Homo sapiens: one gene and its partner. The protein of the gene in region 2 purifies or fractionates together with the protein of the main gene of each other region. This does not show direct contact. Each region holds a gene or a part of one and is shown on either strand. Other genes may lie near its edges. The genes, in order: ANKRD44 and KCNAB1.

Region 1 (3,820 bases), on a different chromosome or scaffold from region 2:
TAAATCCTGTTTGCACTTTAATTCAAGGGCAGGGGAATTGTTTTCTAGCATCCTGTCTTTTTGAGTTTTTGTGGGCAACTGATGAAGGGCAGTGGGGGCATACACTAAGCAGAGGAAAACTGGAAACTGAATAACTTTCTATATCAACATAGATAAATATATAGACATAAAGATTCTATGTAATATATATTAACCAGTTGTTCTTAAAGACTGGCCAAGGTTCTGCATCCCACCTTCCAAATGTAGCCTTCTAAGTCATGACTTACAGCAGAAATGAATGAATAAATGGCAGAGACAAACAGCAGCAATGTCTACTCTTGAGCTGGAAAAGGCAGACTGCTGCCTTCTCTTTCTGCTGGTAGAACAGGAGCAGTGGTGAGGCTGGAACATCCTGTCCCCCAAGAAAGGAAAACCAAGTTGCATCATTATGGAAAACCATAATGAGGAAACCAGGCATCCAGGGCAGGTCTCAGAAAGCAATAGGGAGCCGTGGACGAAACACACCTCCTGACGGCACCACTGCTCTGCTACTAAAATGCAACCTGGTGAGGTGTCGGACTCCAGAGCAAAACAGAGAGTGGATTCTGACCCGCCTTCCATGTTTAGACTCCACAGCCACCTCCCCTGCCATCTCCGCAGCCACTTCCTCTGCCATCCCCCACCATTTCTTGAGGTTTTCTGTGCCCCAATCCTAGAGTGTGGGACTCTTTTCATTCTCCTCTGATTTACTTCTCTTTTGGTGTTTTGAAAGCAGCTTTGCCCTTCACCTTTTATTCCTTTGTTAGCTGAAAAATACCTCTCCCCAGGATGAAACTTCTCTGTCTCCAGTTCATTTTTTGCCACATTGACTTTTTGCTGATCTTTACCATGGGGTGACAAGCATTCCCAAGATGACCACACTGGGGCAAGAGTAAGCTCTGAACAATTATATTGGCGGATGGCTATTTCCTTTCTCTAGCCACAGCCGTTATGCTTTTTGTGGAAAATGGAGTAAACTGGCTCTAATGACTTTAATCACCCTGTGTTGGACTCTTTTGCAGATTGATGAAATCAATGTCTATGGAAATACAGCGCTTCACATCGCCTGCTACAATGGACAGGATGCTGTGGTTAACGAGTTGATTGACTACGGTGCTAACGTGAACCAGCCAAACAATAATGGGTTCACCCCTTTGCATTTTGCTGCTGCCTCCACTCATGGTGCTTTGTGTCTTGAATTGTTAGTAAACAACGGGGCAGATGTTAACATTCAGGTATGACACTCTTAGTCTCTGTGTTGAATGCCTTTGCATTGAGCTTCTGTTTGAGCAAAATCAACTGCTGCAAATTATGCCATGTTTTAGTGAGTTGGAACCTCACAGCCTTGTCCTGGATTTGGAGGCTATAAGAAAAGTTGTCTGGAGGCTGAGGCAGGTAGATCATGAGGTTAGGAGTTCAAGACCAGCCTGACGAAGATGGTGAAACACCATCTCTACTAAAAATGCAAAAATTAGCCAGGCGTGGTGGCGGGTGCCTGCAATCTCAGCTACTCGGGAGGCTGAGGCAGAGAATTGCTTAAACCCGGGAGACAGAGGTTGCAGTGAGCTGAGATTGTGCAACTGCACTCTAACCTGGGCAACAGAGCAAGACTCCGTCTCAAAAACAAAAAAAAAAAAGTTGTGTTATTTTTCTTCAGGAGTGGTGGTATCAGCTGAAAGGTACCAAGGCTCCAGCCGTGTGTTCTTGTTAGCTTAGTGAATGTGTCAGGACAAATACTGGATCTCTAGGATATTGACTTGCCCAGAAGCTAATACTGAGGTGAATGTTGAGCTGATAGGGCAGTGTTGCTAAGAATTCAAAGGAAGGCCTAATAATGATTGTAGGCCTGTTTCCAACTCCAGTGTGGGTTTAGAGCTTCTCAGATACCTTCTTTCTTTTCTTTCTTTTTTTTTTTGAGATGGAGTTTTGCTCTTGTCACCCAGGCTGGAATGCAATGGCGTGATCTCAGCTTACTGCAACCTCTGCCTCCCAGGTTCAAGCGATTCTCCTGCCTCAGCCTCCCCAGTAGCTGGGATTACAGACATGCACCACCATGCCCAGCTAATTTTTTGTATTATTAGTAGAGATGGTGTTTCACCATGTTGGCCAGGCTGGTCTCAAACTCTTGGCCTCAAGTGATCCACCTGCCTCAGCCTCCCAAAGTGCTGGGATTACAGGTGTGAGCCACTGTGCCCAGCCAATACCTTCTTAAAGCAAACCCCAGATAGTGGCTTCAGTGATGTAGCACTGAGCTGGTCATCACAATCATTCCTTTATTCAGCAAATTTACTAAGGACTACCCAGTGCCCTCTGTTTGGTACTGAAAGAGTGCTCTAAGATGAGATTCAGTCTCTGCCTTTAAGGAACTTACAGTGTAGTAGGGAGGTAGCATGCACTCAGGTAATCATGAGCAAGAGAAGATATGATGAGAAGAGTCATAAAGCATTGCAAACTCTAAGAAGCAATTGTTGACTTGTTTTTTGCTTGGGAATAAAAAATGGAGATCGATTTTGAGGGGAGACTTGGAAGATTAATGTAGTTGAGTTGAGGAGGGATAGAGATAATTTGAGAGAGAGTGTTCCAGATAGAACAGCATGAGCAAAGAGGGGTGGGAATTCTGGATAGGAAAACCTCTAGGTAACTTGTCAGCTTGCCATGTGACAGCTAACCAAGGGGAGCTTATCACGCAGCATTCATAATTTGGGCGACATCACTTGAATGCATTTAGATTGTAGCAGAATATCCTTAGCTGTGCTAGGAGACCTTTTATTCAACCCAGGCTTCCCTTCTTCCCAGCACACAGGGATCCTGAAGCAAGGTCCCAGTGTATTCTGTCTCTGGTTTTGAAAAATGATTTCTAAGGTGTAATTTCAAGAATATCACATCAGTCTATTTTAATAACCTTCTCTATTCACTATTAAAATCTTATATTTTTTCACAATTTCTAATAGTGGTGAAAGATGTGACAAATTTTCAGAATAGCAATTGATTGTATCAAATAGAGTATAATTTTATGAACATGCCAAGTGTGGTGGCTCGGCCTGTAATCCCAGCTCCTTGGGAGCCTGAGGTGTAGGATTCCTTGAGCCCAGGAGTTTAAGATCAGCCTGAGCAACCTAGTGAGATCCTGTCTGTAAAAAGCTTTTTTATTTTTAATTGTATGACAGAAAGGAGCCAGAAATGAGCTGAAATGTGATTTGACCAAGGAAGAGGACTCATCTACTGGATGATTTTGAGCCCAAGGAGCTTGGGCCTCTCCAGGCTCTGCAGGCCACGAATCATTCTAGGGGTCATATGATCAGACCTGAGCATTAAAAACAGTAATCCGGTCACAGAACACCAAAGGCAGGAAAAAAAAAGGAAAATAATCATATATATGACTACAAAAAAGTCTTAAACATTTATAAAACAAAACAACAACAATAAAACCTCTAACATGAAATTAAAATAAGAGCAACTTAGGGAAAATTTTCTTCAATATACATGATAAGCAAATAGTTAATATGCTTGATATAAAAAGAGCTCATACAAATCAATAAGAAAAAGTGATCATTACTAGAAAACATGGAGCAAAAGTCAGATCACAAGAGAGAATAAAAAATACATTAAGCCTGTGAAAAACTAGTATTACTGGTAATTAGAAAAATACAAACTAATACAAAAACGTACATTTGTGTTAAAGAACGGCAAATATCAAAATGGCTAATAACACCTAGTATTATCAATGAAAACATTGAAATGCAATAAAGAAATATGATCTCTTTTTTAATGCTAAAATGTTATGGTTATGTGTGTAGATGAT
Region 2 (4,383 bases):
GTAAATACAGCAGGAGTCAGAACTACTTACCACAAACCTAATGTGCATTCCCTATCCTGCTGCCTGCAATTTTACTTCTTAAATATACCAGGACTGCTGAATCTCCCCCAACTCTAATGCTTTCTTCCAATCATTTAATAATACCCTTTGTTTCAAATATAAATTACCATAGAATATGGACATAAAGCAATCCTCAAATTCCTCAGGAACTAGAATTAACCTGATGTAAAATATTTTAATTCCATCTTCCAAGAAAGGAAACAAGTTTGAGTTCGCTAGCAATTCCTTACTGATGAACATTAACCAAAGACCCACAGAATTATTTCCAATAGCAAATGTGTAATGTCTTCAAGGACTCTTCAATACATTTCATATTCTGTCTTGTAAGTAATGCTTCACAGGTGGATAAATTTGTTAATATTTTATAAGTTAATCATATTTATCTTCTACATACAAGTTTCTAATGGAGATATCACTCATGGGCCATGTTATTGGAAGAAAGAACAATTGGAAGTCCAAGAAAATTTTCTGGGACTTCTCAACGGCTGACATTTACAAATGAAAGAAAAATTTGGGTGACTTGGGGGATCGTACATTCTATCGCTAACATTAAATTTGGAAGAGATTGCACCATCAGACATTGTCACTGTCCAGGAATCTCAAGGACTCGACAGAGGAATGTAGTTCCAACATTTGAGAGGTAAAAAAGTTGCTGGCGATGAGAAAAACTGCCTTAGTTTCCTGAGCTATTGCAAACATTGAACTCTGTAATAAATGTATTTAATTTATAAATAGAGTTAGTTCCAACTACACATACTCGTTTCTTCCTGGAAATAATCATGCTGCAATAATAAAGGAGGATGGGAAATTTTTAATTTTTGATCATGTAAGGTGGACATATCTTCACTCTTTTTCAACCCTTTTACTAAACAAGGGAAACACCATGCTATTGTCAATCAGTGATTAATAACACTACCCCACAGATTATCACAGGAGACATTAATTCTGGATCATGTCTAATCTAGTCTTTTCTGATTACAGAACAAAATATTATTGTTTAAGTGAAGCAGAAAAGAGCAGATATTTGCTTTTCCCCAAAAGTTTCTTGCTAAACCTGGTTACCTTAACTAATATGCCACTCTGACTTGTTCAATGTTGTTCCAATGTCAGATAATGAAGAATTCTGTGGTCTTGTATTAGACTCTTTAAAGGAAATTTCTGGTATATCGCAAGTCAAGGAAAATGTTACGGAAGAAAACCATTTTCAATGCTTTCCTTTGCCACTTAACTCTTTTTCCTAGAGGATCTTTAATAATAGCTTTAAGATTTGTAGATGTGAGATATGTAATAGTTTGAAATATGAGATATGTAACACTAACAAGCTCATTCAAACTTTCTTTAAACGAGACTACTTTTCCTTTGGTCTTCCTCCCATGTACCCCAAATGTGGGCCCAACAGCATATACAAGAGCTTCAGACAAACCACTCTGGCCATGAATACCAAATGTATTTCATAGAACATTTCCAGAAGCTTTATTTTGTGCTAATTTTTAAATGTTGATTTTTGAATAATAGTTTAGGTTTTAAAATATCTATTTATTGCTGCCTTGAAAAAGAGAAAATGAAAGTTAGTTGAGGAGTTTTAAAGTGTACGGTACAAGTTTTTAGTCTATATGCACAAGTTAATTCAATTACTAAATAAGTTTTTCTGTAGTGTCTTTTGGAAATAGAAATATAGACAGAAAGGCAGCTCAGAGTGCACTGGATGCTTTGATACAGGCTGCATTGCAGAATTTCAGTGCTACCATACAGTCTCTACAAAAGGAGTTTTCCATACTTTGACTACGTAATTGGAACCATTTTTCATCTCAAAGGAATTTTTATTACCATTTAATAACATAGCTATTCTAGGTATTATTTTCACAGTATTTTTTCTTCCAAAATTATCTTTAATTCCTAAGAGATTTTTTGCACAAATTATAGAAAATAAGCATCCTTAAATTTCAGGACTCCAGACACTTTTTACTCAGTACGTTTTGCCTTGGAACACTGGGATTTGTGAAATTATCCTTCCTCTGCTTTATTTGAAGCTGAGGCTGAGTAAAGAACAGAAAGAAAACCCATAGAGATTTGCCTTACATTTATCTCTTTTTTAAAAGTTACCTTTTTCTCCTGATGTTATCTGTCTTAGACACGGGGCTCAGATCCCTATATTGGTGGTCAATATGTCCCATTCTGCATCCCTATGGCCAGCCTGACCCCTCATTCAACAAGTTCACACTACTCAACTCCACTTTTCAACCAGGCAAAACAAATGTTCTTCCCTCATCCCCAAGTTCTCAGAGCAAAGGAAATGCTGAAAGATTGCAAACTCTTTTTTGTAGTTATTTTGGAAGGGAGCACTTTCCTACCATCTCTTAACTCCTCTGATTTTTACTTAAGAAAAATCATAATGCTCTTTTGTCCTGTCAGCTCCTAAGCATCTACTGCCTCCTTGTAAGAGGTCTTTTCTGAATAACAATGCAGGGAACATTATTTGCCATTTGCACCAAGATCCTGCTCTTTGTGGTTACACATTCTGAAGTGCCAATCATCTCTAAGGCAATTAGAGCCGTTAAGACTTCCAGCTGCAGAGGAAAAGAAATCAAAGCATTCTCCAGAGCACCTTCGAACGGCGTCTCCCAAAGCCCGCGCAGAGCAGGGGCAGCTTACCTGTGCGGCATGCCTGTGGTGCAGACGGTGGTGTGCTCGCTGGACAGGTCGCAGAGCTTTAGGTACCAGTTCATCTCCACTTCGCGCAGCAGAGCCAGTTGACGCGCCCTGAGCTGGCTTTCCCCTGAGGGACTAAGGCTGCTGTCTTTAGCGTTTTCTGAGGCTTTCTTGGGAGATTTGTCTTTCCCTGCTACAGAAAACCCAGACTGTCTCCTTAACTTGGTGTTCTCCTCTGAGATCTGACTCCCCGCTGCCCCTGTCCGGGCTGCCAGCATCGTGGAGATCTTTCAGAGAAGACTGGAAGTCACTGTCATCAAAGTAATCTGAATTGATTTTTCTGCTTCTGCCTCCCTCCCTCGTCCCTGCCCACTCCACCTCTCTTAACCTTATCCTGCCACAAAGCTGTAATTGAGCCCAGTCTGTGGCTTGGGATGAAAATGTATCTCTAACCTTTCCTAGTGAAGAGGTAAGCTGGCCAATACCTGTGGTATCTTCGAACACGGAAATTTTAAAAACAACTCCCAACAACTTTGTAATACTGAAGTTTGGCAGTGGCTGTTTCTTCCGCAAAGTTAGGACTTTTGCTTTATTTAATAGTGACAACTCTGAACTTTTGGTCATATAGGTTTGGTAAATTACATTCGATAATCATGTTAGAGTTATAAAAGATTTCTGGAGGCTCATTAGCCATTCCTGATTAGAGTCCCTTTGGAGTTTTAAAAGTTTTAATGTGAATTTCCTCAAATAAGTTCAACAGTATCAATGCAAGGGAAAGATTATTTCTCTTGTGCAAACCTGAACATTTTAAATTTATTTTATATTTCTTTGAATGTCAGTGAACCACATAACGTATGTCAGGCACTCTTTCATTCCTAATGTGAGAATGGTAATCCCTCATAACCGATTCAGTAACTGCCCCTCCCAGCACTTCTGACAAATAGAAGCCATGAGAATCATCTGATAATTGGGAAGGTGAAGGCCAAAACTGGTGTGAAAAAACAGAAGAGTGGGAGGGAATGGTGGGAGCCTGTATGTGCATGGATGTGTATGTGTGTGCCCAGTGTACATGAAAACTAGTTTGGGAGAAACAAAGAAAGCCAAGCTGATGGCCCTATGGTTAAGATGCATGGGGTTGACCCACACACACCCATGGATCTCACTCTGTTTTAGTTTAGGAGATAATGATGTCAGTGTCCACCTAGGGGTCTATCACAGAGTTGTTTAGTGACCCGTTAAGCACCAGGCACCCTCCCCCTCAATCAACTTAAGTCTCTTCTGGATCAACTATCTCAGTGCCTGCTGCATGTAAAGAACTTGGGAAGGTGCATGTATTTTTCTTTCCATGACAAAACCGTAAGTTAAAAATTGTAGAGTTATAGCAAGTCCTTAGAGTCCCTGAGAAGAGCAGGAGAGGAAGGAGGAAAGAAGCATGCCTTCTTAAAGAGATAGGAAAGTGCAGTTAGCTCTTTTGGAAAGTCTGTCAATAGGCTGTCATAAGGCCTCCTCTGCCACCACGGTATGGAGGAAGAATTTCCTTCACTGCTATTCTCATCCCTTTACTATCTGAACTAATGTGGTCACCTCGGTCACATGGCTTGGTAACAAGTCATCTACTGCTGTCTTGGATTATCTTGCTTCCTTTAATGTACGCCTTGCCCCCTTTCACTTGCC

Evidence for each region.
Region 1: the proteins of KCNAB1 (region 2) and ANKRD44 purify together in Homo sapiens (co-immunoprecipitation; one large-scale study listed by IntAct). This does not show direct contact.

What each region holds. Positions count from the first base shown.
Region 1 is NC_000002.12:197,118,765-197,122,584, reverse strand, and holds part of ANKRD44 (serine/threonine-protein phosphatase 6 regulatory ankyrin repeat subunit B), read left to right. Parts: intron 1-1,040; coding exon 1,041-1,253; intron 1,254-3,820. UniProt on the Homo sapiens protein: Putative regulatory subunit of protein phosphatase 6 (PP6) that may be involved in the recognition of phosphoprotein substrates.
Region 2 is NC_000003.12:156,119,216-156,123,598, reverse strand, and holds the start of KCNAB1 (voltage-gated potassium channel subunit beta-1), read right to left. Parts: upstream 3,022-4,383; 5' UTR 2,988-3,021; coding exon 2,713-2,987; intron 1-2,712. UniProt on the Homo sapiens protein: Regulatory subunit of the voltage-gated potassium (Kv) Shaker channels composed of pore-forming and potassium-conducting alpha subunits and of regulatory beta subunits.